7 linked regions of the Homo sapiens genome follow. The protein of the gene in region 4 binds, or shares a complex with, the protein of the main gene of each other region. Each region holds a gene or a part of one and is shown on either strand. Other genes may lie near its edges. The genes, in order: PRPF8, SNRNP200, PRPF6, SART1, PRPF31, LSM2 and SNRPE.

The links.
Region 1: SART1 (region 4) and PRPF8 share a complex: the UniProt entries of both Homo sapiens proteins name them as parts of the U4/U6-U5 tri-snRNP complex.
Region 2: SART1 (region 4) and SNRNP200 share a complex: the UniProt entries of both Homo sapiens proteins name them as parts of the U4/U6-U5 tri-snRNP complex.
Region 3: SART1 (region 4) and PRPF6 share a complex: the UniProt entries of both Homo sapiens proteins name them as parts of the U4/U6-U5 tri-snRNP complex.
Region 5: SART1 (region 4) and PRPF31 share a complex: the UniProt entries of both Homo sapiens proteins name them as parts of the U4/U6-U5 tri-snRNP complex.
Region 6: SART1 (region 4) and LSM2 share a complex: the UniProt entries of both Homo sapiens proteins name them as parts of the U4/U6-U5 tri-snRNP complex.
Region 7: SART1 (region 4) and SNRPE share a complex: the UniProt entries of both Homo sapiens proteins name them as parts of the U4/U6-U5 tri-snRNP complex.

What each region holds. Positions count from the first base shown.
Region 1 is NC_000017.11:1,660,868-1,664,367, reverse strand, and holds part of PRPF8 (pre-mRNA-processing-splicing factor 8), read left to right. Parts: intron 1-2,214; coding exon 2,215-2,462; intron 2,463-2,577; coding exon 2,578-2,757; intron 2,758-2,961; coding exon 2,962-3,097; intron 3,098-3,205; coding exon 3,206-3,375; intron 3,376-3,500. UniProt on the Homo sapiens protein: Plays a role in pre-mRNA splicing as core component of precatalytic, catalytic and postcatalytic spliceosomal complexes, both of the predominant U2-type spliceosome and the minor U12-type spliceosome.
Region 2 is NC_000002.12:96,288,547-96,292,046, forward strand, and holds part of SNRNP200 (U5 small nuclear ribonucleoprotein 200 kDa helicase), read right to left. Parts: intron 3,355-3,500; coding exon 3,205-3,354; intron 2,957-3,204; coding exon 2,846-2,956; intron 2,270-2,845; coding exon 2,138-2,269; intron 1,969-2,137; coding exon 1,780-1,968; intron 1,451-1,779; coding exon 1,253-1,450; intron 834-1,252; coding exon 681-833; intron 572-680; coding exon 491-571; intron 201-490; coding exon 117-200; intron 1-116. UniProt on the Homo sapiens protein: Catalyzes the ATP-dependent unwinding of U4/U6 RNA duplices, an essential step in the assembly of a catalytically active spliceosome. Plays a role in pre-mRNA splicing as a core component of precatalytic, catalytic and postcatalytic spliceosomal complexes.
Region 3 is NC_000020.11:63,991,132-63,994,631, reverse strand, and holds part of PRPF6 (pre-mRNA-processing factor 6), read right to left. Parts: intron 1,226-3,500; coding exon 1,147-1,225; intron 1-1,146. UniProt on the Homo sapiens protein: Involved in pre-mRNA splicing as component of the U4/U6-U5 tri-snRNP complex, one of the building blocks of the spliceosome.
Region 4 is NC_000011.10:65,968,234-65,971,733, reverse strand, and holds part of SART1 (U4/U6.U5 tri-snRNP-associated protein 1), read right to left. Parts: intron 1-3,500. UniProt on the Homo sapiens protein: Plays a role in mRNA splicing as a component of the U4/U6-U5 tri-snRNP, one of the building blocks of the spliceosome. May also bind to DNA.
Region 5 is NC_000019.10:54,122,254-54,125,753, reverse strand, and holds part of PRPF31 (U4/U6 small nuclear ribonucleoprotein Prp31), read right to left. Parts: exon of another isoform or gene 3,348-3,500; intron 3,263-3,347; exon of another isoform or gene 3,258-3,262; coding exon 3,160-3,257; exon of another isoform or gene 3,112-3,159; intron 2,301-3,111; coding exon 2,194-2,300; intron 2,006-2,193; coding exon 1,836-2,005; intron 1,256-1,835; coding exon 1,098-1,255; intron 1-1,097. UniProt on the Homo sapiens protein: Involved in pre-mRNA splicing as component of the spliceosome. Required for the assembly of the U4/U5/U6 tri-snRNP complex, one of the building blocks of the spliceosome.
Region 6 is NC_000006.12:31,796,967-31,800,466, forward strand, and holds the end of LSM2 (U6 snRNA-associated Sm-like protein LSm2), read right to left. Parts: intron 1,542-3,500; coding exon 1,511-1,541; intron 1,084-1,510; coding exon 1,024-1,083; intron 917-1,023; coding exon 791-916; 3' UTR 430-790; downstream 1-429. UniProt on the Homo sapiens protein: Plays a role in pre-mRNA splicing as component of the U4/U6-U5 tri-snRNP complex that is involved in spliceosome assembly, and as component of the precatalytic spliceosome (spliceosome B complex).
Region 7 is NC_000001.11:203,864,599-203,868,098, reverse strand, and holds part of SNRPE (small nuclear ribonucleoprotein E), read right to left. Parts: intron 3,059-3,500; coding exon 2,980-3,058; intron 1-2,979. UniProt on the Homo sapiens protein: Plays a role in pre-mRNA splicing as a core component of the spliceosomal U1, U2, U4 and U5 small nuclear ribonucleoproteins (snRNPs), the building blocks of the spliceosome.

The sequences.
Region 1 (3,500 bases), on a different chromosome or scaffold from region 4:
TCCTTAGTGATATTTTTTGTATACTTCTATCGATTACTGAGGAGTATTAGAAATCTCTAGTAATCCCAGCAGTTTGGGAGGCTGAGGCTGGTGGATTGCTTGAGCACAGGAGTTCGAGACCAGCCTGGGCAACATAGCGAAACCCCATTTCTACAAAAAAAATACAAAAATTAGCTGGGTGTGGTGGTACACGCCTGTAGTCCCAGGTGCTTGGGAGGCTGAGGCGGGAGAGTCTCCTGAGCCTGGGAGGTGGAGGCTGCAATGAGTGGAGATGGTGCCATTGCACTCTAGCCTGGGCAACAGAGCAAGACCCTGTCTTGCTTGAGAGAAAGATCCAACTACAGCTGTGAGTTTATTGTCTTTCAGGTCCATCATTTTTGAAATTCTGTTATTAGTTACATAATGTATTTAGGATTATTAGGTCTTCTGAACGAGTTGACTACTTTATCGTATCAAATATCCCTCTGTATTCCTGATAACATTCCATGGTCTGAAGTCTTTGTCTTAATCAGTAGTGCCACTCCAGCTTTGTTTTGTGTTTGCATGGGTGTATTTTTCCATCTTTTTACTGTTAATCTGTGTCTTTGTAACTAAAGTTTATTTCCTATAGACAGCATATAGTTGGCTCTTTTTTTTTTTTTTTTTTTTTTTTTTTTTGAGATGGAGTCTCTTCCTTGGTTGCCCAGGCTGGAGTGCAGTGGCATGATCTTGGCTCAGTGCAACCTCTGCCTCCCGAGTTCAAGCGATTCTTCTACCTCAGCCTCCCAAGAAACTGAGACTACAGGCGCGTGCCACCACGCTCAGCTAATTTTTGTATTTTTAGTAGAGACGGGGGGTCTCACCATGCTGTCCAGGCTGGTTTCGAACTCCTGACCCCGAGGCCCGCCTCAGCCTCCCAGAGTGCTGGGATTACAGGTGTGAGCCACCATGCCCGGCCTTTTTATTTAAATCCAATTTGACAATGTTTGCCTTACAAATGGTCTAAATACCTCAATTAAGGTTAATGTAACTATCAATGTGGCAATGTAGCTCAGTTTAAATCTACCGTCTTACTCTTTTTTTTTTAAATTATTTTTTCTGCTTTTCTCTTGTCCTGCCTTCTTCTGAATTTAGTTGTTTTGTGACTTTATCTCCACTTTTCACTTATTTGGCTACATGGTTTTTTTCTTATTGTTTGCTCTAAGGTTTACAGTATATACATAGCTCACTTACTGTGATCTACTTTGACCATTAGTCTACTACGGATCACTTCACATATAGTACAAGAACCTTAGAATAATACACTTTAAGTTCCACTCCCACTCTTAGTAGTATTTTTGTCATAACATTTTAATTGTACATGTATTATAAGTGCTATAATACTTTGTTACTCTTTTTGCTTTGAACAGCCTTTATCTTTTGTAGAAATTGCAAAATGAGAAAAAATATTTTTTTGCATTTTACCCACATACTTACCATTTCTGGTGTTCTTCACTAGTTTGTATAGCTCCATCTGGTGTGCTTTTTTTTTTCTTTTTCTTTTCTTTTTTTTTTTTTTGAGACACAGTCTTGCTCTGTCTCCCAGGCTGGAGTGCAGTGGTGCGATCTCAGCTCACTGCAACCTCTGCCTCCTGGGTTCAATTTCTGTATTTTTAGTAGAGACGGTTTCATGTTGGCCAGGCTGGTCTTGAACTCCTGACCTCAGGTGATCCACCCACCTCGGCCTCCCAAAGTGCTGGCATGACAGGCGTGAGCCACCACACCTGGCCCAGGGGAACCATTTTTTTTTTTTTTTCCCCTGAGATGGAGTCTCGCTGTGTTGCCCAGGCTGGAATGCAGTGGCACAATCTCAGCTCACTGCAACCTCCACCTCCCAGGTTCAAGCGATTCTCTTGCCTCAGCCTTCTGAGTAGCTGGGATTACAGGCGTCTGCCACCACACCCGGCTAATTCTTGTATTTTTAGTAGAAACAGGGTTTTGCCATGTTGGCCAGGCTGGTCTCCAACTCCCGGGCTCAAGCAGTCCTCCCACCTTGGCCTCCCAAAGTGCTGGGATTATAGGCATGAGCCATCGCGCCCAGCCTCATTGTGTTTTGCTTTCTATTTCCCTAGTGACTAATGATGTTGAACTCAAATCTTTCTTTAGTAGTAGGGATAAAACTAACTGCATCAAGTAGTCTCCACCCTCCCCGCCCCTGGCTCATCTGTAATTTACTTTTTTTTCTACTACCTTTAGATTGTGAATAAGTGGAATACAGCTCTCATTGGCCTTATGACATACTTTCGGGAGGCTGTGGTGAACACCCAAGAGCTCTTGGACTTACTGGTGAAGTGTGAGAACAAAATCCAGACACGTATCAAGATTGGACTCAACTCCAAGATGCCAAGTCGGTTCCCCCCGGTTGTGTTCTACACCCCTAAGGAGTTGGGTGGACTCGGCATGCTCTCAATGGGCCATGTGCTCATCCCCCAATCCGACCTCAGGTACAGCCTGGTTCAACGTATTTCTAAACCCTATTGCTCAGGCCCTAAGGGAAGTGGGTATTTCTTTAGTTTTAGGCTTTATTTTTTCTGTAATCTTGGTTGTACACCCAAACAGGTGGTCCAAACAGACAGATGTAGGTATCACACACTTTCGTTCAGGAATGAGCCATGAAGAAGACCAGCTCATTCCCAACTTGTACCGCTACATACAGCCATGGGAGAGCGAGTTCATTGATTCTCAGCGGGTCTGGGCTGAGTACGCACTCAAGAGGCAAGAGGCCATTGCTCAGAACAGGTGGGCACCTAGGAGGGCATGCCAACCCTGGGGCAGGGGCAGTGGTGGCCTTTGAACCGTGTGGAGTTCAGGGTCAGAGCATGCCATGGTTGTATGGAGGTGAGAAGGCTGGTTCTACTGACCCTAATTATTTTTGGCCAGGAAGGAGTGCTGAGCTCCTCATATGAGATCACGTTTTGACTTGAATCTTTCTTTTTTTGGAAGACGCCTGACTTTAGAAGACCTAGAAGATTCATGGGATCGTGGCATTCCTCGAATCAATACCCTCTTCCAGAAGGACCGGCACACACTGGCTTATGATAAGGGCTGGCGTGTCAGAACTGACTTTAAGCAGTATCAGGTATGTAGAGGGAGCAGATTTTCCCTGAGTCAGGAAAATCCATGGCTATCCCCGAAACTTGGGGCAATAGGCACCCAGAAGCTTGACCGTGCCTGCCTTGCCATCTAGGTTTTGAAGCAGAATCCGTTCTGGTGGACACACCAGCGGCATGATGGGAAGCTCTGGAACCTGAACAACTACCGTACAGACATGATCCAGGCCCTGGGCGGTGTGGAAGGCATTCTGGAACACACACTCTTTAAGGGCACTTACTTCCCTACCTGGGAGGGGCTTTTCTGGTGAGGATTCTCCTCTCTTAGAGGGACCTGTCACAACCCTTTGAGCTCATCTCTTGTATGCCTCTGTGATTTCCTGTGGTGTTTCCCAGACAGCCACCTCCAGGAGGTTAGCAGTGTGCTGGGAA
Region 2 (3,500 bases), on a different chromosome or scaffold from region 4:
TAAGCACTCCTCCCATCTCACTAGGGTCGGGCCTCCTTTCCCCAGGATGCACACAGCACACAGGGATTGAACTGTTCAGGCCCCTTCTCACAGCTGCCATACAACTCCGCTCTCACCTGTGTGACATACACCATGTCAGCCATCAGTGCAAAGCCCTCCAATTTCAGCTGTGAGATGAAGGCTTGCAGAAGAACGTTGATCTGTAAAGAAGCAAAATCAGCCAGCAGGAGACCAATCACTGAACAGTCCAAGAAAGGGAATTACATTTCTGCTCTGAGCATCCAGGCCAGGTGAGATTTGCTACAGGTCTTGATTTACAAATACTAAATAATTGTTATTTCATATAAAAAGAACATGCGAGAAGGCTGCAAAAACTAGGAGAACTGAGCAGGAAACCACACATGAACCCAAATTCAAGGTTCATCTTTTAGAAGATTATGAAAACCACTTAATCCTCATCCTTATCAAAGCAAAGAGGAGAGGAGCTCACCTTAGCACTGGGTTCCTCAATGCTCTCCTTTACAGGGATAGGCACCCTCTCCAGCAACTTCTGCAGCTCCAGCTTCTCCTCCTGCCACAAGGAGGAAAAGGTCAAGGGAAAGCCTTGTGGCCGAGGAGGGACACCATTCAGTGACTTGGTGAGCACCAACTCCCCGCCCCATCATGCTGCATAGGCTCACCTCTCTCACTGTGATGTTCTTGAACTCAGAGGACAATGAGAAGACCCTGAAAAGCTCAATCTCACTCAGGGTGGGCTTCAGCAGCTGGTTGTAAGTCTGCACTGTATCATTGGTGATGTAGTAGTGGCTGGCTATACGGCCCAGTTCTGTCACCTGGAGAGAAGGTAGACTCAATCCAGTGCTGACTATTAATGAGCTCCAACCTCTAACTGTGGACCATAAGTTACTGTCCTATAGGTTTTTTGTACTTTTTTTTTGGTAAAGTATATGACCCAATGTCATTATTGTCCTAATAGGACAACTGGATGAAGTCACAGCAGTACAAGTGCCAGGCCCAGGCACATGAAGAAAAACAGCAGAATAAGCTGACCCATAGTGAAATGATGTCTGCACGGACAAGACAGCTGAATTATCCACCTCAAGTTATGGGAAAAGCTACCCATTTTTCTGCTGTTCTAAGCAACAGGTGATTAGATAGGCAGTACTCACATCAAGAGAGCAATCTGAAAAATTTTTTCCTGGGCCAACAACTTTTGCTGAGACCTTTGCCTCAAAACCCTCACCCCACGCACCTGGAAGTTGCCCGTCTTCTTGTCGTACTTGACCAGATTGTTCTTGTCCAGCATCAGGGCAGCTGTATGAACCAGATCTAGTCGGCGCTGGTCCAGCAGGGGATCTCCCTTGAGGTCATCATGAGAGATGCCATAGAGGGTTGGGGATCGCAGCATTCGGATATAGAGGTAGGCATAGCCCAGCCAGTTCACCGCATCCTACAAGACACAGCTCATGGTTCTTAGCATGGAGAAACTCTTGATGTCCAAATGACAGGCTCCCATGAATTGCTTAGAAATTAATTCCCAACTACAAGGATGCATATTACATCGTATTCTGAATGTTTTTAGCATTTCATTATTAAAAAGATCTAAGCGTCTTCTAAGATCTTGGTAACAAGGGGAACTATCTGCCAGACCCAAGATGTGGGTGCAGGGATGGAAGGCCTCGGACGCTGCTGGCCCGCAGCACAATAGGGACCGACCCACTCCTGGTGCCTTGGTGTCTGCGGGGAAAGCATGAAGCACAACAAGCAGTCCTCCCCTACCTTGGCATTCTGGACATTTCCTAGCACGATTTCTGCATTGAGCATGTCAGGAAGCTTTGAAACCATCTGGCTTTCAATAGGAAGTTGTTGATTGAGGAGGGACAGGTAGTACTGTAGCTCCCCATGAGATGTGATGAGTATGCCTTCACCCTTGGTGTCATACTGGGGTCTTCCGGCACGTCCCAGCATCTAGATCAGAGACAGCGAACCAAGAATGCTATGTCAAGAGAATGTCTGAATTTTGATGCAGGTATCTACATTACAGAACTAGACCTCTGATCTGCTAGCTTTCCAGCATCCCTGCATTTCAGGCAAGGATACTGATCCCTGCTGAGAATAAACTCAAAAGGCTCTGTACCTGCAGAATGTCCAGTGCTCCCAGTTCTGTCCAACGCCCCTTCTCTGGACTGTACACCTGGGTGCCTTTGATGATGACTGTATGTGCAGGGAGATTCACACCCCAAGCTAGAGTTGCTGTGGAAACTAAAACCTACAGAGGCAAAACAAGGTAATGAGGAGAACAGATGCCATCACCAGGGGTTAATATCCCTGGCTTCTCTAGGCAGTTGGCCTCAGAGCTTCTCTCAGGACTAGCCGGTAGGGCGCGTGGGGTCCCAGTACTTGTCAATGTGACACCAGAATAAAGAGGAAAGGTTTCCTTGGGTTCCTCATCTATTCAGTAATGAACATTTCAAGGTTCCAGAGGCACAAGTGCAGACTTGTATTAAACAACCTTAAAGTTACTAGAAAAGGTAAAACAGAGCCTATCCGGAAAGAGGGAACGACAAGGGCACGCGTGCCCCCATGAGACACTGTTTGGAGCTATCTGAAGTCACCAAAGTGCTTGCTTCACTATGCTTCTCAGACTATCCTAAACTCAAGCAAGGTGGGAAGAGTTGGGAGAGTAGCATAAGGTTCTATTTATTGTGTCCACCACAACCCTCTGACCTGGGCTAGCTGGGCCAGAAGCAATAAAGTACCAGGAGCAAACATGGCACAAACTTGACATTGCCCATCTTCTGAAGTATGTCCCACCTGCTCCTCCAAACGCTTTGCACCCCCTCACCTGAATATGTTTATCAGCAAAAAGATCCTCCACGAGTGTTCGGTCAACCCTGGTCATGCCTGCGTGATGAATAGCAAAGCCATAAGGCAGAAGATCCTTCAGCTCTAGGTTCTGTGGAACAAAGAACCGGGGATGAGGCGAGCCTTCCTGTAGGACTCATCCAAGGACTAAGGAAATCTCCTCCCATGAGACCCTGCCCCTTAACTATTATGTGGAATAGTAATAATCACATCCAGACAATCAACCTTAACCCATGGGAAACAACAATACCACAGTACAGTCCTAGAGGAGCTGTCTGGGGCCTGAGATGGACACAGCTGCCAGGTAGGAATGAGAGAACCCAGCTGGCCCCTCCTCACCTTGCACTGCTCAGCTTCTGTTCGCAGGACTTCTGTGGAGGCTGAGCCCTCCCTCAGAAACAGACCCAGAGTGTCCTTTTCTAGGCACATGTCCCGGATGGCCCTGGCTGTCTTTCCAGTCTCCTTCCGGGAGTGGACAAACACCAGCACCTAAGGAGAAGCCACAGTTTGCTACAGTCACGAGATACTCACAGCCCCAGGGCACCTGCAGCAGGAAGCAGAAGTTGCACCATCACCACCAGAAGCCAAGGTCCTGGAGAGGGGCAAGGGCAGGAATGTGTGCAGGCTCAGAGGAA
Region 3 (3,500 bases), on a different chromosome or scaffold from region 4:
GCCTGGCTAAGTTTTTATTTTTTGTAAAGACAGGTTCTCCCCAAGGCTGGTCTCAAACTCCTGGGCTCAAGTGATCCTCCCACCTCAGCCTCCCAAAGTGCTGAGATTACAGATGTGAGCCACTGTACCCAGCCCCAAAAATAGTTTTCTACTTCACTTAGAAAAATCAATTTAGGCCGGGCACGGTGGCTCATGCCTGTTAATCCCAGCACTTTGGGAGGCCAAAGCGGGCAGATCACCTGAGGTCGGGAGTTCGAGACCAGCCTGACCAACATGGAGAAACCCCATCTCTACTAAAAATACAAAATTAGCCGGGCATGGTGGCACATGCCTGTAATCCCAGCTACTAGGGAGGCTGAGGCAGGAGAATCGTTTGAACCTGGGAGGCGGAGGTTGCGGTGAGCTGAGATCGCGTCATTGCACTCCAGCCTGGGCAACAAGAGCCAAACTCCGTCTCAAAAAAAAAAAAAAAAGAAAAAGAAAAGAAAAATCAATTTATTGGATCTGTTCAACTTCACTAAAATGTAAATTATTCTCTCAAAGCCCAGGGGACACAGTTTAGAAAATCTTACGTATAAATGGGGCCAGACGTGGTGGCTCACGCCTGTAATCCCAGCCCTTTGGGAGGCTGAGGTGGGCAGATCACTAGAGTTCAGGAGTTTGAGACCAGCCTGGTACACATGGCGAAATCCTGTCTTTACTAAAAATACAAAAATTAGCTGGGTATGGTGGCAGGCACCTGTAATCCCAGCTACTTAGGAGGCTGAGGCACAAGAATTGCTTGAACCTAGGAGGTGAAGGTTGCAGTGAGCTGAGACCACGCCACTGCACTCCAGCCAGGGCAACAGAGCCAGACTGCCTCCAAAAAAAAAAAGAAAAAAGAAAAAAGAAAATCTTAGGTATAAATGGAGTCAAAATTACAAAGAAAATAAGTTCATTTGTCCTACCTTTTACAGTAGGGGAAGGGTTTTTTTTTACACACATATAATTAAACATACTGAAGCAAACACTTTCTTCTTCTAAGCAATGACCCCCTAAATTAAAAACGTAAAGTCTCATAAATTCCACGTAAGAGCAGTCTGAGTCTCTGCGGGTTAGGGTGAGAGCGTTAGAAACCGCACACCATTCACCGCTTCATCGGCTCACCTTGAGGTCTGAGAACTGCTGTTGGATTTTGGGGCGTTCCATACGATATTTCTCTATTTCTTCTTTCTCCCTTTGCTCCCTAGGAAATAAAACATGCACACATCAGAAACACTGCATGTCTGTTCTGAAGCAAATTTATTATCCATCTCAATTAAATCACCAAAAAGAACAATTCCATACTCTTAGTAGCTAAATCAAATATATATATATATATATACATATACACACACACACACACACACACACACACACACACACATTTTTTTTTTTGAGATGGAGTCTTGCTCTGTCACCCAGGCTAAAGTGCAGTGGCGCAATCTCAGCTCACTGCAACCTCCACCTCCTGGGTTTAAGTGATTTTCCTGCCTCAGCCTCCCAAGTAGCTGGGATTACAGGTGCTCGCCACCACTCCCAGCTAATTTTTGTGTTTTTAGTAGAGACGGGGTTTCACCATCCTGGCCAGGCTGTTCTCGAACTCCTGACCTTGTGATCTACCCACCTTGGCCTCCCAAAGTGCTGGGATTACAGGTGTGAGCCACCGCACCCAGCCCAAATCAAATATATTTTAAGGTAACTATGAATACATTCTTAGCTGGGCATGGTAGCACACACCTGTAATCACAGCTACTTGGGAGGCTGAGGCAGAATCATTTGAACCCAGGAGGCAGAGGGTGCAGTGAGCCAAGATCGCACCACTGCACTCCAGCCTGGGCAACACAGAGAGACTCTGCCTCTAAATAAATAAATATAAATACATTCGTAAGTCTACTAATTCAATTATCCACCAAATAAAAACATGTAGAAATTCATTAAAATAAAAAAAAAAGATCTTACTTTGATCTAAATACCTCCATTTGGACATGTGTATATTTACTGCTTGAAAATTCACAAAATCCCAAAGGTAGGACCATCCCATAAACACCTAAGAAGGCCAGGCGTGGTGGCTTACACCTGTAATCCCAACGCTTTGGGAGGCCGAGGTGGGCAGATCACCTGAGGTCAGGAGTTCAAGCCTGGCCAATGTGGTAAAACCCCATCTATACTAAAAATATGAAAATTAGCCAGGCGTGGTGGCGCATGCCTGTTATCCCAGCTACTCAGGAGGCTGAGGTAGGAGAATTGCTTGAACCTGGGAGGTGGAAGTTGCAGGGAGCCAAGATCATGCCATTGCACTCCAGCCTGGGTGACAAGAGTGAAACTTCGTCTCAAAAAAATAAAAATAAAAATAAAAATTAGCTGGGCATGGTGGTGGGCACCTGTAATCCCCAGCTACCTGGGAGACTGAGGCAGGAGAATCATCTGAATCCAGGAAGTGGAGGTTGCAGTGAGCCAATCTAGCCTGGGCGACAGAGCGAGACCTTGTCGCAAAACAAAACAAAACAAAACAAAACAAAAAAACACCTACAAGGAAAAACAGTAACTATCCTAGTTACCACCAAACACTCCAAACACTCTACTGAACTCATCCCACCTTTCCTTCCTTGCTTCCTTCTCTTCCAAGTAAATAGTTCACCTCTAACCAACTCAGCTCAGCTGCACAGCTCTATGTGCCAGAACATAACCCATGTAATTGCACTTCGGTGTTGAGACTACATGTGAGGATATGGTATTCACAGTACTGTTCTTCCTACTTGTTTGTATTACGACAGTTTTCAGAATAAAAAGTTTTAATAAGTACACTACTTTTTTTTTTTTCTTTGAGACAGTCTCACTCTGTCACCAGGCTGGAATGCAGTGGTGCGATCTCAGCTCACTGCAACCTCCGCCTCCTGGGTTTAAGTGATTCTCGTGCCTCAGCCTCCTGAGTAGCTGGGATTACAGGCATGCACCACCACACCCAGCTAATTTTTGTATTGTTAGTAGAGACGGGGTTTCACCATGTTGGCCAGGATGGTCTCGATCTCCTGACCTCATGATCTGCCCGCCTCGGCCTCCCAAAGTGCTGGGATTATAGGTGTGAGCCACCGTGCTCGGCCAAGTACACTACTTTTTAAAAACATTTAATTTAATGGCTTTCTTCATGGGTCCGTGTCACCTGCTGTTTTTTGTTTTGTTTTTGTTTTAGAGACACGGCCTTGGTCTGTTGCCCAGGCTGGAGCACAGTGGCATAAGCATAGCTCACTGTAGCCTCTAATTCCTAGGCTCAAGCGATGCTCCTGCCTCAGCCTTGGGAATGTAGCTGGAACTACGGGCATGTGCAACTGGCTAATTTTAATTTTGTTTTTGTAGAGACAGGGTTTCACCATGTTGCCCAGGCTGGTCTCGAACTCCTAGACTCAAGTGGTCCTCCTGCCTTGGCCTCCCAAGGTACTAGGATTACACATGTAAGCCACTGCACCCAGCCTGATGTTTTT
Region 4 (3,500 bases):
CCCTTAACTGCCTTGTCCCTCCTCCCTAGAAAACCCAATCCTCAATCCCACCATCCACTGCTTCAGGGCATTAATCCCACCATCCCCCTCCTCAGCTCCTGAATCCCACCATCCCCCTCCTCAGCAGCTCCTGAATCCCACCATCCCCCTCTTCAGCAGCTCATGAATCCCACCATCCCCCTCCTCAGCTCATGAATCCCACCATCCCCCTCCTCAGCTCATGAATCCCACCATCCCCCTCCTCAGCTCATGAATCCCACCATCCCCCTCCTCAGCAGCTCATGAATCCCACCATCCCCCTCCTCAGCAGCTCATGAATCCCACCATCCCCCTCCTCAGCAGCTCATGAATCCCACCATCCCCCTCCTCAGCTCATGAATCCCACCATCCCCCTCCTCAGCAGCTCCTGAATCCCACCATCCCCCTCCTCAGCAGCTCATGAATCCCACCATCCCCCTCCTCAGCTCATGAATCCCACCATCCCCCTCCTCAGCTCATGAATCCCACCATCCCCCTCCTCAGCAGCTCATGAATCCCACCATCCCCCTCCTCAGCTTCTGAATCCCACCATCCCCCTCCTCAGCAGCTCATGAATCCCATCCCCCTCCTCAGCAGCTCATGAATCCCACCATCCCCCTCCTCAGCTCATGAATCCCACCATCCCCCTCCTCAGCTCCTGAATCCCACCACCCCCCTCCTCAGCACCTCATGAATCCCACCATCCCCCTCCTCAGCAGCTCATGAATCCCACCATCCCCCTCCTCAGCTCATGAATCCCACCATCCCCCTCCTCAGCTCATGAATCCCACCATCCCCCTCCTCAGCTCCTGAATCCCACCATCCCCCTCCTCAGCAGCTCATGAATCCCACCATCCCCCTCCTCAGCTCATGAATCCCACCATCCCCCTCCTCAGCTCATGAATCCCACCATCCCCCTCCCTCAGCAGCTCATGAATTCCACCATCCCCCTCCTCAGCTCATGAATCCCACCATCCACACTGCCACTGGCAGGCCTGCTCTTCTCCCAGGGTGTATCTGCTCTCCACTCTCCAGAACAGCATCTCCCATCTCTTTGCACCACCACCTCTGCCACCTCTTCACTGGAAAAACACCAGAACAATCGGCCATGGGCTGCCTTGACTTCCCCTAAACAAGGTCACCCACAGCTGCTGTGCCCTCCCCACCTTCCCTCCTGAAATAAATGATGACACGAGCTGGCTTCACTCAAGCCCACCCTCCACTTGCACTCTAGGCCCCAGCACCGCCTGCCGAGATCTTTTTCTTCTTCCGTCATAAATGTGTCTCCCACATACTCTAGAATCTCCGGTAGTCAGAAAAGGCTCCTTTGCGGGTGGGAAACTTGATTGGATGCTGCTTACAACAAAAAACTAAAAAGACATTTTGGGGGATAACTGGAAAATGTTGGCATGCGAGCTGCTGTTTTACAGCATTTATGGGCTTGTTAGGGCAGTGTGGCTATGCGGGAGAAGGCCCTGATTTCGCCAGATGCCTACTGAAGTCGTTAAGGATGCAGTGTCATGATATCTGCAACTCCCAGTGGTCAGGAAAAAAAGAAGAGAAAGAAAAGAACTGTAACAATGTTTATAATTACTGACTCTAGAGGACAAAGGTGTTCACTGTGATAGGCTTTCCACTTTTTTGCCTGCACAGTGTGTGGGGTGTGGCTCATATGTTTAAAAAACCTTCTAGGTGGCCGGGTGTGGTGGTTCATGCCTCTAATTCCAGCACTTTGGGAGGCTGAGGAGGGTGGATCACAAGGTGAGGAGTTTGAGACCAGCCTGACCAACACGGTGAAACCCTGTTTCTTCTAAAAAATACAAAAATCAGCTGGGCGTGGTGGCATGCACCTGTAGTTCCAGCTACTCAGGAGGCTGAGGCAGGAGAATTGCTTGAGCCCGGGACATGGAGGTTGCAGTGAGCCGAGATCGCGCCACTGCACTCCAGCCTGGTGACAGAGCGAGACTCCGTCTCAAACAACAACAAAAACTTTCTAGGCTACACCAGGCCTGGTGGCTCATGCCTGTAACCCCAGCACTTTGGGAGGTGGAGGCGAGAGGATCGTTTGAGCTCAGGAATTTGAGACCAGCCCGGGCAACACACTGAGACCCACAGGCGCACGCCTGTAGTCTCAGCTACTTGAGAGCCTGAGGCAGGAGGATCCCTTGAGCCCAGGAGTTCAAGGCTGCAGTGAACTATGATTGCACTACTGCACTCCAGCCTGGGCAACCGAGCGAGACCTTGTTTCTTAAAACAACAACAAAAACAACCTCCTAGGTGAGTCTAATGTGCAGGCAGGCTGAGATCCACGGGGCTAGAAACCCTTATGTTCATTTCAGTCATAAAACAGCCCTGTCAGCCTATTGCTCCATTTCTCTGTTCCTTTTTAGCCGGGCAAACTATGTCCCAACACCTGTTCTTAGAAATAAAGTATTACTGGAACCCAGCCACGCCCACTCACTTACAGACTGTCTTGGCTGTTTTCCCTATAACAGCACAGCATTCAAGGTGCCTAACAGAGACCATATGCCCTTAAACCTCAAATACGTCCTCTCCAGCCCTTCAACAGTAAGCCTGGCCTCCGTCCCGGGTTCAGCCCTCACTTTTTCAACTCCCCTGTCCTCCGGGTCCTGAATCCACTGCAACTGTCCCCACTTTGCCTCCCAGTAGTATCAGAAGCTTCCCTCCCTTGCTCCCTCTCCTGGACACGCTTTCTTGGCTTCTTCCTAGGTGAGAAGTGTGGGGTAGGGCTAAAAGTGTGGCCTCTGGAATGATGGAGATGACAGAACCTTCCTCATAGGGTGTTGCTGGGAGGATGGAATGAATCAACAAACACAGAACATGTGAGCAGTGCCCGGCCCACTGTGCCTCTGGGGCAGCGACGACCATGGGGTCAAGGCTCCCCCTGCGTTGGCCCCCTACCTCTCCATCTCAGCTCACGCCACCCCTCACTCTCTGCTCTGCTCCAGCCTCCCTGGCCCTCAGGCACTCTAAGGTCACTTCTCCTGAGACACCTGCTGGTTGGTCTACTGCCTAAATGCCAGCCTGTCCACCTGCTGCCACCCCTAACCCCCCGCAAGGCTGGCTCCTCTGTGTGACTCAAGTCTCAGATGAACTAGTACCTTGGAAAGGTCTTCCCTGCACTCTCCCATCTAAGATCCCAACCCCCGGCACGTTATCTTGGTTTACTGAGTGCCCAGCTCCCACCACCATCAGAAATTACCGTTCCTGCATTAACAGTCACTGCTGCTCCCCACGCTCTCCCCCACACACTCTAGAAAGCCAGCTCCATGAGCCCAGGGCCCCATGGCTATCCTGTTCACCAATGACCTTCTCAGCCCAAGAACAATGCACTACTCACAGCAGGCATTCAACAAACATGCACAGAAGAGAGAGGCAAGGAAAGGATCCCCTACTAAAGCAGGCATCTAAAAATTTTTGCAAAACATGACTTTAAACAGAATAGAGGGCTGGGCACGGTG
Region 5 (3,500 bases), on a different chromosome or scaffold from region 4:
TGTGTTCCAGTAGCAGTGCCTGACCTAAAGGGTCGCAGAAAAGACCACAAAAAAAACCCCACACAGGGCTGGGGGGTGGGGCCAGGAAGTGCCTGCCCAGCCTTGGCCATCAGTGCTATTGTTCTCCCCATCCCTGGGGGAGGCCAGGCAGGGCACAGGGCCGTGAGCCTGAGGTAACTCGCCACAGTTGGACAGAGCAGGGTCTGGACCCAGGCCTGTCTGTCCCAGAACCTGTCTTGCTTGTTTTTTTTTTTTTTTGAGACAGAGTCTCACTCTGTCACCCAGGCTGGAGGGCAGTGGTATGATCTTAGCTCACTGCAACCTCCACCTCCTGGGTTCAAGCGATTCTCCTGCCTCAGCCTCCCAAGTAGCTGGGATTATAAGTGTGTGCCACTATACCCAGCTAGTTTTTTGTATTTTTGGTAGAGATGGGGTTTCACCATGTTGGCCAGGCTGGTCTCGAACACCTGACCTCAGGTGATCTGCCCGCCTCGGCCTCCCAAAGTGCTGGGATGACAGGCACGAGCCACTGCGCCCCGCCAGGCTAGCGGGCCTGTGTGTGTGCTGTCAGGCGTCGATGCTGGGATGGTGATGTGTCCCGACTGCAGGGAGAGGACCCGGGAAGCTCCGAGGTTGGTGACCTCTCCTGCCCCTCCTGTGTGTCTCTCCCCATGGCTGATGTGCAGCCCTCAGTGGATTCTGTGAGTCTTTCTAGTGAATGGTCAAACCTGAGGGTGGTCTTCGGAGCAGTTGCACGCTAACCCGACGCTGCTTGTCGTGAGCTAGGCCTGAACTGTAAGTGCTTCATGTGCACTGAGCCCTCGTCCCAACTCATGAAGCAGGCGCTGTGCTCCCATTTGATAGGGGAGGAGACTGAGGCACAGGGCGCTCATGCCTCTTGCCCACAGTCACCTGACTGGTGGGTGCTGGAGCTGGTCTGCTGCAGAGCCCTGGCTCTCACGTCCCATGCCACCCTGTTCCCAGCTCCTGAGTGCTACCGTCAGCTGGGCCAGATGGTGGGTGGCTGCTCAGGCTGTCTGGGCACAGCGGAAGGCTCCAGGGGGGCCGGGGGAGGGGCCATGACGCAGTGGGCTCACCGGTGGCAGGGACTGCACGATGTCACTGTGGTAGATGTAGCCGGTGTGGGGCAGCACTGAGGTAGACGAGAAGCCCGACAGCGTCTTGCGCTGGGCCCCGAGCAGCATGATGTTGCAGGCGGGCATCTTGGAGAGGTTGGTCAGGCCGCCGGCCACACCTGCGGTGGGAGGGAGGGAGGAAGGGGGGGCGGTCAGAAGAAAGCAGAGAGGTGGGGGTGAGTAAATCTGCCTGGGGGCTCGACGTGTGCTGGGCACCTTTACATGAAGTTCTGGTTGGATTCCTCGATGGCCCTGCCAGGCGGGCGACCTGGCCCATTCCGCAAGGGGCAGATGCAAAGGAGGCTCAGAGAGGGAGGGCAGCTGGCCTGGGGGTGCAGGGAGGAGGCCCCCAACAGGAAGCTGACCACCACGTTTGTGCTAAGCCACACTAACGCCGTTCCAGGGATGGCTGTGTTTTGGAACCATTTTCACCAAACCAGGAGCTCCCTGACAACAGGGCCTGGGTGTGGTCATCTCTGGGTTTCCGGCACAGGGGAGGGAGAAGGAGCTGTGGGTGAGTGTTTTTCCCACAGATGAGGCTTTGCTGTGTGCCAGGCTGGCTGACCTCTGTGATGTCCAGGGAGACGGGGTGCTGAGGTCCAGGTGCCAAAGCCCCCATTCTACAGAAAAGGATGTAGCTTTCCCAAGGTCACAGTGTCAGCAGACCCCCGCTCCATGGGACCCAGCCCGGGGACTCACCCATGATCTTGGCGGCCGTGGATGCCCCGATAATGATGGACAGGTTGGGTGCGATGAAGGACATCCGGGACTCCACATACTCGTAGATGCGGTGCTTGGAGGCGTTCAGCTCCAGCGCCATGTCGCAGGCCTCCTCCAGCCGCTCCAGCTCCTCCTCCGACAGCTGCTGCCTGCAGGGGCGGGTGGGCCCAGCCTCCTGGGTCTCCCGCCTGCCTGGTGTGCCCAGCCCCAGCCCTCTCGGTTCTGTGTGTGTGTGTGCATGTGTGTATGTGTGTGTGCGTGTGTACACCTGCGTGTGTAGCTCCAGCCTAATCCCCAATCCCATTAGGGCCCGGCGCCTCCCTCGAAGCGGACATACCCCTGGGTGGTGGAGGCGGTGACGCTGACGACCATGATGGTGGCATTGGTGAGGATCTGCTGCAGGTTCTCATTGTTCTTGCACTTGTCCAGGCTGTTGCCCAGCTCCTGGGGGCGAGCAGAGAAGATAGGGGAGGCTCGGGAACTCAGGAAGGCTCGAGAACCTCTCTTGCTCAGCACCTCCTCAGGTCTCTTCTTAGGGACACTGGGACAGTCAGGGTCTCTGCACTGGGGGCCTCTCCTGCCTCCACCGCCTGAAGCATCCACACCATTCCTGCCTCCACCACGTCAAGCATCCACACCATCTGCCCTGCTTTCGCTGACCTGGAAACGGAGCCCGGGCAGAGTGGCGTCTGGAAAGACTGTGGCCTCACAAGCCTCTGGCCTGCGTCAAGTCGGAGTGCAAATCCGCGGCCTCGCTTCCCTGCAGGGGCTTCCCCACCGCCATCCTAATCCTTTCCTGGACATGCGTGGGGACCTCCTCCTCTCCCCGCCCTCACGCACACCTGCCCCTCTTTTCCGAAACCCTTCCTTGGCTTTCTCCTAAGACCCAAAGGCTGGACGTGATCCGACCTCTTCCCCGTCCCCTCCTTCCCCGCCTCACTTCCTCCCCACTTGTTCCCTCTCCAGCTCTCTGCACTTAGACGTCTCTCTCCCCCAAATCTCCGTGTGCCTGCCCTGTGTCAACCTTCGGATGTCAACTCCAATGCCACCGGCTCCAACCACAGCGGGAGCAGCGTGGGTCAGGCCAGCGGGGAAGCCCTCTCGGGAGACTGGGGTTGGAGGGGAGCCCTGAGAAAGTCCTGTCCAGGCTCCGTCCCTCCCACGCTGGGCAGAGCAGACCACTGAGCCCTCGTCCACTCCTCTCCATCGTCTCCAGACCCTCAGGCCTCTGGGAGGGGGTCCGAGAGTGAGCCCCGCCTGCCCCTTCACGCCAGCAGAAGCACCCCACCTTCTCTGCGCTCACCTTGACCGTGCGGATGTAATCCAGTGCATTGGGGACCAAGGACTCCAGTTCAGGGAATCTCTTTGAGTACTTATCCCGGATGAACTTATGGATGATGTCTAGGGTAAACGGGACAGGAGGTTGTCGGGTGAGATGGAAGGTAGACTCTGCTGGTTGGCCCTAACACCCATGTCCCCTTCTTCCTTTAGTAACTGAAGCCCTGGCTTGTGGCCTGGCACACGGGCACCAGCATACAGCCTTTCTCAGCCGTCCTTACCGCTAGGTGTGACCAGGGGAATTAGTTCTGGTCTGTAAAACGTGAGCTGCAGTGACATGTTCTTAAAGAAAAGAAGCGCCTTGCT
Region 6 (3,500 bases), on a different chromosome or scaffold from region 4:
TTTGCTGAATGAGTGAATGAAGTTTAGTAATTCCCAGTCACAACTTTTCTCTAAAATATAAATTACATCACTTGTATTTATCTTCTATACATATTCAGAAAACATGAACTGATTTGGTTGGATTGGTGAAGTCTGGTAGCATGAAATGTATCTTATGACACTATCACATTAATGGAAGGACAGCAAGCACTCCAGTTGCAGGTATGGTATAAGCAAAAGGCCACAGGGAGAACATACAGGTAGGGACATGTTGGGGAAACATGGTGTAGAGCAACTGTATTATATGCTTTATACCAAGGAGAGTAGTGGGAAGCTGAGTTGGATTCTTGGCTGGGTTAACGCAGAGTAACAGGGGCTTGGATGAATTCGACATCCTTTTCCATGTCCCAGCCCCCTGCCCAACACATAGTAACAGAACCAAAACACAAATTTGCATCATAAATTTTATTCCCGATGCGGGACAGATTCCTTCCATCCCCAAATGAATCACATGCTGCCCTGGAAAGACCTAGGAAACTCTCCTACCATCTCCAGAGAAGTAGTGAGAAAGGCAGGTGCTGGGGACTGGGAAGGCTTTGAAGTTTCCCAGCCTACTTATCCTCCCCTTCTCAAGAGAGGATAGCTGTTCCCTATTACTCCTCTCATCCACTCATCCCTTAAAAAAAACCCACAAAACCATCATTAGTAAAAAAACAAAACCCCTTCAAGTATTGGGGGTTAGGGGTTCTGGGCTGGGACTTGGGGTTATGGGTCACCAATGAAAGAGGGAGGGGAAGAGGAGGAGGAGCCATCACTGTTTCTGCTGCAGGGCTTCCTTCCTTGCCGCATCCTGTAGCAACTGTGTGTCGACCTCATCTGCTGGCAGCTGCACGTATCGGACCACTGAGCCCCGAATGAAGCAGTTCTTCACTGATAACTAGACAAAGATGGACAAATATGAAAACACCCTTAAAAATGTCCTCTAACCACCCAGGGGCCTCCTGCTTTAGAGGTGTTTCCTCTTCTCCACAGACCCCAACTCACCATGTGAGGGTATTTCTCAGGGTCTGTGACACTGATGTCAGTTAGTTTGATGTTGAGATACTAGGAAAGGAAGATGAACACCATTATTATTATTATTTTTTTTTTTTTGAGACAAGAGTTTTGCTCTTGTTGCCCAGGCTGGAGTGCAATGGTGCCATCTCGGCTCACTGCAATCTCCGCCTCCTGGGTTCAAATGATTTTCCTGCCTCAGCCTCTCGACTAGCTGGGATTACAGGTGCCCACCACCACGCCCAGCTAATTTTTTGTATTTTTAGTAGAGACGGGGTTTCACCATGTTTGTCAGGCTTGTCTTGAACTCCTGACCTCAGGCCTCGGCCTCTCAAAGTGCTGGGATTACAGGCGTGAGCCACCGTGCCTGGCCGACGAACACCATTATTAACCCTAGAGACATGATGTAAGAACCCAACCCTTAAGTCTCCCCTCTCCTTCTCCAGGAACCAATTCTGGGGCCCGTGCTATATCTCACCTGATCCACAGAATGGAGGGTTCCACAGATGCTGTCAAGGGCAGAGGGAGAGAAGAATCAAATTAGTTTATAACAAAGTCAACATAGAGGTGACTTCAGAGCTGGGATGAGAACATGACTGGGAGAAGTCAAGGACTTGAGGATGTCAGAAAAGGTAGAACCAAAAGGGGGCATTCCTAAGCCCTGGAGTAGGAAAGACAACTAACAGAGTAGTTTATTTTCAACCCCACATCTCCTCTCCCTAAACCAATCCATTCTTTTTTTTTTTTTTTTTTTTTTTGAGATGGAGTCTCACTGTCAGCCAGGCTGAAGTGCAGTGGTGTGATCTTGGCTCACTGCAACCTCTGCCTCCCAGGTTCAAGCGATTCTCCTGCCTCAGTCTCCTGAGTAGCTAGGACTTCAGGCGCATGCCATCATGCCCGGCTAATTTTTTATTTTTAGTAGAGATGGGGTTTCACCATGTTGGCCAGGCTGTTCCTTAACTCCTGATCTCAGGCGATCTGCCCACTTCAGCTCCCCAAAGTGCTGGGATTACAGGTGTGAACCACTGTCCCCGGCCAAACCAACCTATTCTTAACAGCTACCATTAAACAACTGGTAAAGGCTAGACCTGTATTCTATATAGTATTTGTAATCTTTACAGCCATCTTTCAAAGTAGTTATTACCTTCCAGGGGCTCAGAGAGGTTGTTTTAAACTTTATGAGTTTAGAACAAATGGGAACTTCAGTCCAAGTCTGTGTGACTCCCAAAACCATCAGCTATTTTTTTTTTATTTTTGCGACAGGGTCTCACTCTATGGCCAAGGCTGGAGTGAAATGGCGTGATCATGGCTCACTGTGGCCACTTGAGTAGCTGTGATTACAGGCTTGAGCCACCATGCCCAGCTGATTTTTTTTTGAGATGGAGTCTCGCTCTGTCGGCCAGTCTGGAGTGCAGTGGCACAATCTCGGCTCACTGAAAGCTCCATCTCCCAGGTTCACGCCATTCTCCTGCCTCAGCCTCCCGAGTAGCTGGGACTACAGATGCCGGCCACCACTCCTGGCTAATTTTTTGTATTTTTAGTAGAGACGGGGTTTCACCGTGTTAGCCAGGATGGTCTCGATCTCCTGACCTCATGATCTGCCCACCTCAGCCTCCCAAAGTGCTGGGATTACAGGCATGAGCCACCATTCCCGACTTTTTTTTTTTTTTTTTGTAGAGAAAGGGTCTCACTGTGAATGTCACCCAGGCTAGCTATTTTCAAACATTTATTGCTTTGGAACCAGAGCCCATATGTGGATAAAGGTAGGTAGCATTACTCTTGATGATGCAGGCATGAGTGATGTCCTCTCCATTCCCCAATCCTCGAGCCCCTTGAAATGCTATTTGAGGAATGCTATCAAAACACCAGTGCTCTTTGAGAGAATGGTGCAAAAATTTAAAAAAACAGCCTTTGGCTGGGAATGGTTGTTCACGCCTATAATCCAAGCATTCTGGGAGGCTGAGGCAGGAGGATCGCCTGAAGCCAGCTGGAGAACAGCCCAGACAACATAGCAAGACCTCATCTCTATTTTAAAGTTATAAAATAAAATAACTGTGGCCGGGCACGGTGGCTCACGCCTATAATTCCAGCACTTAGGGAGGACGAGGCGGGCGAATCACGAGGTCAGGAGTTCGACACCAGCCTGGCCAACATCGTGAAACCCCATCTCTACTAAAAATACAAAAAATTAGCTGGGCATAGTGGCAGACGCCTGTAATCCCAGCTACTCGGGAGGCTGAAGCAGGAGAATCACTTGAACCCGGGAGGTGGAGGTTGTAGTGAGGCGAGATCGAGCCACTGCACTCCAGCCTGGGTGACAGAGTGAGACTCCATCTCAAGAAAAATAAATAAATAAAAATAATCGTAATAAATAGCAGTTTTAAAAACGTCCTTATCTTGCCAAAAATAAAGTTGGCAGTTCTCTGCCCCAATTTTTGTAAAATTCTGAAAGTCTTTAAAACCCAGCG
Region 7 (3,500 bases), on a different chromosome or scaffold from region 4:
GAGCGACAGAGACTCTGTCTCCAAAAACAAAAGAAAGAAATACCATTCATTGTTCAAATATTTTTTAGTTTCTATTATGTGCCAGGCATTGAGTTAGGTACTGAGCACACTGGGATCAAAAAAGGCATGACTCATACACTTACGGTGAAGCATCTGATAACAGGAGAGACACTAATAAAATAATTTCAATAATAAAGGTTTTACTACAAACTCAGGGAGCACATAATCCCGCCTTCCCCCATCCCCAGCAAAACCAAATTAAACTTTGAACTTTTTAGAGCAGGGCTTCCTAACCCCTGGGCCACAGACCAGTACCAGTCCTGGTCCCTGTTAGAAACTGGGTCACACAGCAAGAGGTGAGCAGTGGGCGAGGTGGCGGAGCTTCATCTGTATTTACAGCCACTCCCCATCACTAGTATTCCCGCCTGGGCTCTGCCTCCTGTCATATCAGTGGAAGCCTTAGATTCTCATAGGAGCGCAAAACCTATTGTGAACCGGGCAAAGAGGGATCTAGGTTGCGCACTCCTTATGAGAACCTAATGCCTGATGATCTGTCACTGTCTCCCATCACCCCCAGATGGGACTGTCTAGTTGTGGGAAAACAGGCTCAGGGCTCCCACTGATTCTACATGATGGTGAGTTGTATAATTATTTCATTATATATTACAATGTAATAATAATAAAGTGCACTATAAATGTAATGTGCCTGAATCATCCGAAAGCCATCCCCCACACCCCAGTCCACAGAAAAATTGTCTTCCACAAAACCGGTCCCTGGTGCCAAAATGGTTGGGGACCACTGTTTTTTTTTTTTTTTTTGAGACAGAGTCTCGCTGTGTCGCCCAGGCTGGAGCGCAGTGGCGTGATCTCAGCTCACTGCAAGCTCCGCCTCCCAGGTTCGCGCCATTCTCCTGCCTCAGCCTCCCGAGTAGCTGGAACTACAGGCACCCGCCACCATGCCCAGCTAATTTTTTTTTTTTTTTTTTTTTTTCAGGAAAGACAGGGTTTCACCATGTTAGCCAGGATGGTCTTGAATTCCTGACCTCGTAATCCACCCGCCTCGGCCTCCCAAAGTGCTGGGATTACAGGTGTGAGCCACTGCACCTGGCCTAGGGGACCGCTGTCTTAAAAGAAGTGATATTTGATCTGAGCTCTACAGACACAAGGAATATCATATACAAAGATTAATGGTTGGGCAAATCTGCAGATTCAAAGAACTGAAATAAGACAAGTGTTGCTAAAGCTCAGAAAGTGAGGCAGTGATACGAGATGAGCAGAGGGAGATAAGACTAGATCATGAAGATCATTAGATTTGCAGAATCATTAGATTTTTTTTTATCCTAACAGCAACAGGAAGTCATTGCAGTATTTCAAGCAAAGGGATGACATATGTTCAGACTGGTGTTTTTAAAAGATGAGTGAGGCCTGGAAAGCAAACTGGAGGTAGCTGCAGAGAAATCAATTAGTAAGCTGAACTGGAAACTGGTGCCATTCAATAAGGCAGGAAATAATAATACAATAGCTCTAAACAGTGTGAGTTGGAATTGAGTTTGCTTTCTGATATGCTGACTTTAAGAAGCCTTTGAAACATTCAAGTAGAAATGGTGAATAGGCCCAGACAAACAAATTTGGGAGTCAGTATTTATAGATGGTAACTGAAGCTGTACTCCAGTGCCTAGGCAGACAATACTGAATGACAGGAGGGCCTAGAACCAAGCCTGGAGCAACTCATTTAGTGATTGGGTCCCAAGAATGAATATATAAGTCTGAAAAATAGCCAGAAGTGAAAAATAAAAACCCAAGTATAATATCGTAGAGCCAAGGTGTGATACTGCAAAATATTTACTTGGTCTTCAATCCCATACAACTCCTAAAATCCTTAGAATCTCTAAGATGTTGCCTTTTTGTATGCTAATGATTGACTGATGGCCAGCAGCCCCTACAACGTTTCAGCATGGGAGCTGCTCACTGAAAGGACCAAGGCATTAGTGATGTCGGACTTTCAGCCCCACCCTCCCACCCGGGGAGGAGGAAAGGAGCTGAAGGTTAAGCTGATCACCAACGGCCAATTTAATCAGTCATGCCTACATAATGAAGCTTACATAAAAACTGAAAACAATGGGGTTCTGATAGCTCAACATGTGGAGGTTCCCAGAGTGGTGAGCTTGCAGAGGGCACAAAAGCTTCGCATCCCTTCCTATATGCCTTGCCCTACGCATCTCTTCATCTGTACTTTTTGTAATATCCTTTATAACAGACCAGTAAATACAAGTGTTTCCCCGAGTTCTGTGAGCTGCTCTAGCAAATTAATCAAACCAACGGAGGGGTCATGGGACCCAGTTTATAGCCAGTCAGTAAGAAGCACAGGTAAAACAATCTGGAGCTGACAATTAGCATCTGGTGGAGGACTGAGGGGCATGGAAGGCAATCTTGGGGATTGAGCCCTCAACCTCTGGGAACTGACGCTATCTCAGGTAGATAGTGTTAGAACTGAACTGAACTTGACGACTCTGAGCTGATGTCCACTGCCGAACTGATTGCTTGCTTGGTGTGTGGGGAAATATGCCCATACATCTGGTCACAGAAGTCTTCTGTGTTAATTATTGTCAACTGAGGAAACAGAAAAATCTACTTGGGTTTTTCCTGCCACTCAGACACGGGAACAAAGCGCTTTAAGGAGGGAGCAGCCAACAGTGCCAAATGCTGTTGAGAGTTTAATAAAATGAGGATTAGTACTGATCATTAGATTTAATACCACTAGTCTTTGGTTCCCTTGGTGAGAGCTCTCTGGGTGGAGAAGCCAAAATGGAGTGTGGTGAGGAGTGAGTAGTAGAGGATGATTTCAAAAGTGTACTACTACTCTGAATAATAACTTCTCAAATGCAAAATAAATTCAAACATGAACTGAGTTGCAGGTCACTGAATTCTGCAAGTGAATAAAATATTTCTAGAATTCTGTAAGACCACTTCTATCCTTACCCAGTTGTTTTCTTGACTTTGTTTTAGAATGAATCTCTTCTGCATCATCTAATACAAGGTTCATATACTCATCAAAACCCTAGAAAAATAAACAAACTGTTATCTTCAAAGAAAATCACATTCAAACCATTTTAAATGAGTATACCTATGCAGATAAAAACTCCAACTAACTTCAAAGATTCACTCTTCTCAAGCCCCACCCCACCTTCCACCCAAAGTTTTTTTTTTTTTTTTTTTTTTTTTGAGAAAGGATCTCACTTTGTCTTCCAGGCTAGAGTGCAGTGGTGCAACCTCGGCTTACTGCAGCTGGACCTCCTGGGTTCAAGCAATTCTTCTGCCTCAGCTCCCCCCAAGTAGCTGGAACTACAGGGCGCACCACCATGCCTGGCTACTTTTTGTATTTTTGGTAGAAACAGGGTTTCATCATGTTGCCCAGGCTGGTCTCGAACTCTGGAGCTAAAGTGATTCATCATGCTCGGCCTCCCTAAGTGCTAGGATTACAGGCGTGAGCCACCTTGCCC